2 linked regions of the Homo sapiens genome follow. The protein of the gene in region 1 binds, or shares a complex with, the protein of each later gene. Each region holds a gene or a part of one and is shown in the gene's direction. Other genes may lie near its edges.

The links.
Region 2: DCP1A (region 1) and PAK1 share a complex: the UniProt entries of both Homo sapiens proteins name them as parts of the cytoplasmic complex.

Annotation. Positions count from the first base shown.
Region 1 is NC_000003.12:53,340,764-53,344,593, reverse strand, and holds part of DCP1A (mRNA-decapping enzyme 1A), read left to right. Parts: intron 1-2,322; coding exon 2,323-2,450; intron 2,451-3,830. UniProt on the Homo sapiens protein: Necessary for the degradation of mRNAs, both in normal mRNA turnover and in nonsense-mediated mRNA decay. Removes the 7-methyl guanine cap structure from mRNA molecules, yielding a 5'-phosphorylated mRNA fragment and 7m-GDP.
Region 2 is NC_000011.10:77,321,455-77,324,362, reverse strand, and holds the end of PAK1 (serine/threonine-protein kinase PAK 1), read left to right. Parts: intron 1-1,002; coding exon 1,003-1,089; 3' UTR 1,090-1,208; coding exon of another isoform or gene 1,209-1,226; 3' UTR 1,227-2,346; downstream 2,347-2,908. UniProt on the Homo sapiens protein: Protein kinase involved in intracellular signaling pathways downstream of integrins and receptor-type kinases that plays an important role in cytoskeleton dynamics, in cell adhesion, migration, proliferation, apoptosis, mitosis, and in vesicle-mediated transport processes.

The DNA of each region.
Region 1 (3,830 bases):
ATATATTTGGGGAAAAGACAATACATAGACTGGCTCTGTAAAATAATGTTATTGAGAGGTCGATCCCTCTGTTCTTTCATTACTACATGAGTGGTTGTCTTTTATGACTGGTTCTGTCCTCTTTCCCAACCCACAGAAGTTCTGGATTATGTACAGTGTCTTATTTGAGAGTTCTTTAGAAAGCTTGGATTATTCATGATGGCGTATTTTTTATTTTTGACTTATTCAAAAATTCATTATCTTTAAGATTGGTTTGCAAATTGCAACTTTTTTGTTAGGCAGCTTTTGGGGCCTAAAGACAACTGACAGTATATGATAGTCATGGGGTACTTGTTTTCCTGGATTCCTCTAAGGTCTTAACTCTTACAAGGGCAGGTTCCTTCCCTTGTTTTCTAAAGCTTAGGGAGTCAGCAGGAGTTATTACTGATATCTGGTCTTTTCCCTTTTTTTTTTGTATTGAGTTGCTTCATAAGGATTGCCTTTCTCCATTGATGCCAATTTAAAAGAATTTGTCAAATACTCTTCTAAATTTTGATACAAAGCTTTGAGATCTCGTCTAAATGCACTCATTTTTTTCTTCTTTTAAGTGTAATTCTTTGATATTTGTACACCAAGCTCTTTTTTCTTAGACACTTTCTTTGTTCCCTGCTATTCATCTTTCTGCTTTTAAAAAGGAAGGGATCGGCCGGGTGCAGTGGCTCACGCCTGTAATCCCAGCACTTTGGGAGGCCGAGGTGGGCGGATCACGAGGTCAGGAGATCAAGACCATCCTGGCTAACACGGTGAAACCCTGTCTCTACTAAAAATACAAAAAATTAGCTGGGCATGGTGGCAGGCACCTGTAGTCCCAGCTACTTGAGAGGCTGAGGCAGGAGAATATCGTGAACCCAGGAGGCGGAGCTTGCAGTGAGCCGAGGTCGTGCCACTGCACTCCAGCCTGGGTGACAGAGCGAGACTCCCTCTCATAAAAAATAAATAAATTAATAGGAAAGGATCTTTACCCTCACTCCCTTCATTACTCTTCATTAGCAATATAAATCTCTAGAAACTCTGTTATTAGAACCTTAGTTTCTATGATATTTGGTAAAAGTACTTTACTGGCTTTATTGTTATCATACAGAGGCACTGATTGTAGAAAGTAGGAGATTTAGTGTAGTGGGTGGCTGGATTTAATACAATTCACGGAGGCTTATATGGTACTGATTCTAATTAAAGGAGACGCAAGAAACTGTGTTTGGAAAATGTGAGACTATTTTGCGTACCTTGGATAAAGGTATACCAGGATGTCAGACTGTCACTTTGCAGCTATTACTTCATATAGTAGAAGCTTGGATTTGGAGTCAAAAAACCTGAAACTGAATCCTAGTTATATTATTTGTAACTCATTATTTGTGTGACCTCAGGCACAGGCCTTATCATTCAAAGCTTGTCTCCTAATCTATAGAATAGTGTTCTGTTAACACCCCGGGTATATCGTAGAGAAACAAATGAAAAACGGTGAAGTGTTAGGTACATGTGAAGAGTAAAGGATCATGTACCGAATCCCTCTGATATGGGAACCAAGGATGTTTCCTATTGTAGGATTCAAGGCATTTTCCGTCTAACTCAGGAGCGCTATGTAAATATCTATTTGTTGCAAGAAAAACATTATTGTAATGATGGGCAGCCATTATAGCCAATCCAATTGAATGATATTTCATTCAGCAACTGTGTGTCTATCTTGGGATATATGTATGAAAAAAGTAAGACAAAAGCTCCATTTGCATGGGGCTTACATCCTAGTGGGGGGAGGACAATAAATACTAAAAATAAGTGGTATGGATAAAAGAGGAAGGTTAGAGATATTGAGCTTGGGAGCATTAAAAAGGATAGTTCAAGTAGGCCTCATGAAAAAGGTGACATCTGAACAAAGGCTTGGAGGAGATGAGATAGCTGTGCAGCTTCTGGGGCAGTAATCCAGGAAGAGGTTTTTAGGTAGAAGCACACACGCAGAGAGAGTGGCAAGGAGCCCGGTGTGGCTGGAGAGTAGGAGCTGGAGAAGAGCCATAGGAAATGAAGTCAGAGTGGGGAGTATATCAGGTGGGGCCTTGGTGGCCTCAGTAAGGACTTTGGCCTTTACTCTGAGAGACTGTCTTTGGAGACTTCTCGTCAGAGGAGGAGTATGATCTGACTTAAATTTTTTGTTTACAGATGTAAGTGCTGATAATATTGTATAATGTTCTAATGCATTCTTTTTTGAAATGAAAATAAAGTACATAGTAGATAACATTTCTACAGATTAAATGGTAACTACATATTTTTTTTTCTTCTATTAAATCTAAGGTCAGCTTCCCCTTACCATGGTTTTACCATTGTGAATCGACTAAATATGCACAATCTAGTTGAACCAGTGAATAAAGATTTGGAATTTCAGCTCCATGAACCATTTCTTCTGTATAGAAATGCAAGCTGTGAGTATATCTGTTTTATTATAGTTATTACATTTAAAATTGAGTGACTTTAGTTTCTATCAATCCATTATTTAGGAAGTTTCAAATTACAAAACAAAATATGGTCTCTACTTAATGATTATAAATGAGTCTGTTGGAAAGATCAAACCTTTTAAACTGGGCTCTGAGGCCAGAGGTGGTGGCTCATGCCTGTAATCCCAGCACTTTGGGAGGCCGAGGAGGGCAGATCACTTGAGGTCAGGAGTTCGAGACCAGCCAGGCCAACATGGTGAAACCCCGTATCTACTAAAAATACAGAAAAAAATTAGCCGGGCTTGGTGGCAGGCGCCTGTAATCACTTGAACCTGGGAGGTGGAGGTTGCAGTGAGCTGAGATCGCGCCACTGTACTCCAGCCTGGGCAACAGAATGAGACTGTGTCTCAAAAAAATAAATAAATAAACTGGGCTCTGAAACTGGAAACATTCTTTTGTATATAATTTAGTTTACTATTTCATTTAATAGCACTACATTTCTGTTGTCGGTTTATTAAAATAAGGTTTATGCCTTTGTTTTTTTGCAGCTGTGGACTATCAGCTGCCCATGTCCCTAAGCAACAGAACTTAGTTTGGGACACACAGGATGGGAACAGATACAGATAATTCTTTCCACAAAGAAAGTATTATTATTACTATTATTATTTTCTTTTTTTTGAGACGGAGTCTTGCTCTGTTGCCCAGGCTGGAGTGCAGTGGTGTGATCTAGGCTCATGCAAGCTCTGCCTCCCGGATTCATGCCCTTCTCCTGGCTCGGCCTCCCAAGTAGCTGGGACTACAGGCACCCGCCACCACGCCTGGCTAATTTTTTTGTATTTTTGGTAGAGAAGGGGTTTCACCGTGTTAGCCAGGATGGTCTTGATCTCCTGACCTTGTGATCTGCCTGCCTCGGCCTCCCAAAATGCTGGGATTATAGGCATGAGCCACCACGCCCGGCCAGAAAATATTATTTTTGCCCAGAATAGTGGTGATGGGTTTTTTTTTTTAAGATATTTATTACTTTTTCTACTTTATTTTGTCTGAATATGTTTCTAAGTAAGGTTTTTCTATCTGTTTATTTAATTGAGTGTCTACTGGTTACCAGCACTGAGCCAAGAGCTGTGGTGCTTTAATGTTAACGATACAGTTACCTATGTGGTGTAAGCAGGCAGTTAAGTCAACTGAGACTCAGAGATGCATAACTATTACCCTGTTGGAGAGTTAGGATTATGACTATTCTTCTGCTTTTTAGTCCAGGGTTCTTTCAGGCATTTTTACAATCTCTAATAACGATTGGATGTAGTCAGCAAAGCTAGAGTGGCCCTTCCAAGAAACTACAGTACTAAAAAATATACTTGATTCCAGTGT
Region 2 (2,908 bases), on another chromosome or scaffold:
CGTCTCTACTAAAAATACAAAAATTAGCCAGGTGTGGTGGCGGGCGCCTGTAGTCCCAGCTATTCGGGAGGTTGAGGCAGGAGAATTGCTTGAACCCAGGAGGCGGAGGTTGCAGTGAGCCGAGACCGCACCACTGCACTCCAGCCTGGGCAACAGAGTGAGACTCCGTCTCAAAAAAAAAAAAAAAAAAGGAATTGCTTTCTGTAACAGTTTTACTGAAAATTTAGATGCAATTTTCATATAATATTTTCTCCTAAATAGTCATTAAATGTTGAAGGTATGGCCCAAAGTACAGCCCAGTGAAAGTGATTTGGGAAAGGACCAAGCTACTGAACTTTTTACTGAATGATTAGCATTATTGGATTTGAGGATAGAACAATAAATTCCTAGATCAATGCTCCTAAAATGCAGTATTGCGATATACTACTGGGTCATGATCTATTAATACCTTCCCCAGAGGTAATTATTATTCTGATTATCACCATGGTTAGGCTTACCTCGGAAGAAATGGAATAATACAATATGAACTTGCTTGTCTGGCTTCTTTCCCTTAATGTGTCTGTGAGATTCAACCCATTTGTCAGTGTACCAATTACTTATTGTATTGCTGTGTAATTTTCTGTATAGTATTATATGAATATAACACTATTCATTTTTCCATTCTCTTGGACATTTGGGTTCTTTCTGGTTATTGGCTATTATAAGCAAATCTTTTATGAACATTTCTGTGTATGTCTTTTGGTGGCTATACAAACTAATTTCTCTTGGGAATATACCTAGGATTGGAATTACTAGAGTATAGGTAGATGTATTTATCTGTAAGTAGATGCTGCCAAACAGTTTTCCAAAGTGGTCTGTTTTAAGATGTCCTTCAATTTGGGGATGATCAGAAGCTTTCCACACAGCACCCTTTACAAACAAAGATGCCTTTATGTCTTGTAATGGTTACTGGGGAAGAATGTTAAATAGTCATGTGTCTTTTGCTATTTTTCTCCTTTCTAGCATCAATTCCTGAAGATTGCCAAGCCCCTCTCCAGCCTCACTCCACTGATTGCTGCAGCTAAGGAGGCAACAAAGAACAATCACTAAAACCACACTCACCCCAGCCTCATTGTGCCAAGCCTTCTGTGAGATAAATGCACATTTCAGAAATTCCAACTCCTGATGCCCTCTTCTCCTTGCCTTGCTTCTCCCATTTCCTGATCTAGCACTCCTCAAGACTTTGATCCTTGGAAACCGTGTGTCCAGCATTGAAGAGAACTGCAACTGAATGACTAATCAGATGATGGCCATTTCTAAATAAGGAATTTCCTCCCAATTCATGGATATGAGGGTGGTTTATGATTAAGGGTTTATATAAATAAATGTTTCTAGTCTTCCGTGTGTCAAAATCCTCACCTCCTTCATAACCATCTCCCACAATTAATTCTTGACTATATAAATTTATGGTTTGATAATATTATCAATTTGTAATCAATTGAGATTTCTTTAGTGCTTGCTTTTCTGTGACTCAACTGCCCAGACACCTCATTGTACTTGAAAACTGGAACAGCTTGGGAATGCCATGGGGTTTGATAATCTGCCAGGGACATGAAGAGGCTCAGCTTCCTGGACCATGACTTTGGCTCAGCTGATCCTGACATGGGAGAACAACCACATTTTTCTTTGTGTGTGCTTCTAGCAGCTGTTCGGGAGGACCTTGACCCAATAGTGTTCCCATGCTGTTTCTTGTGAAATGCTCTCGGCTATGTAGCAGCTTTTGATTCCCTGCATACCCTAGGCTGCTGCCCCTATCCTGTCCCTTGTTTATAACATTGAGAGGTTTTCTAGGGCACATACTGAGTGAGAGCAGTGTTGAGAAGTCGGGGAAAATGGTGACTACTTTTAGAGCAAGGCTGGGCATCAGCACCTGTCCAGCTCTACTTGTGTGATGTTTCAGGAACTCAGCCCCTTTTTCTGCCTAGGATAAGGAGCTGAAAGATTAACTTGGATCTTCTAATGGTCCAAATCTTTTGGTCACAATAAAGAGTCTCCAAATTAGAGACTGCATGTTAGTTCTGGATGGATTTGGTGGCCTGACATGATACCCTGCCAGCTGTGAGGGGACCCCGTTTTTAAGATGCATGGCCAAGCTCTCTGCAAATGGAAATGCTTACACTGGGTGTTGGGGATGTTTGCTACCTCCTGCTATTTTTGTGGTTTTGGTTCTCCCACTATGGTAGGACCCCTGGCCAGCATTGTGGCTTGTCATGTCAGCCCCATTGACTACCTTCTCATGCTCTGAGGTACTACTGCCTCTGCAGCACAAATTTCTATTTCTGTCAATAAAAGGAGATGAAAATATTCTATTGGAGTATGCCTTTCTTTTTTCTCTTCGTTTTTTCTTTCCTTTTCTAATTTTTTATATGAAATAATGAGTAGTTTCTTCCTGAACCATTTGAGAGTGGTAAGTTGCAGATAGAATGCCCCTTTACCACTATATACCTGAATGTGTATTCTTTCTTTTTAACACTTTTATTTTAAATATAAATTAAGAGAAATGGGCCAAAACCATTTGTATTGTTTAAAGAATAATTATAAACACACTTGTATCCACCAAATCAAGAAATGGAACACTGACAGTAAGAACCTTCTCTATCTTGTCCTTCCTTTCTCATTATAGCCCCCACCTAAGAGGTAACCACCATCTTGACTTTTATTTAAATAACTTTCTTGCTTTTCTGTATACTTTCATCACATTCAGGTGTGTTCCAATACAAGTAGATTTTAGTTCGGCCAGTTTTTGAACTTTAAATAAACATATCATAATAGATATATTCTTTTGTGCCTGTTATTGTTTCCACTCAAGATTATGTTTTTAAAATATATGTACCTAGTTTGTGTGTAGCTCTAGTTCATGTATTATTCC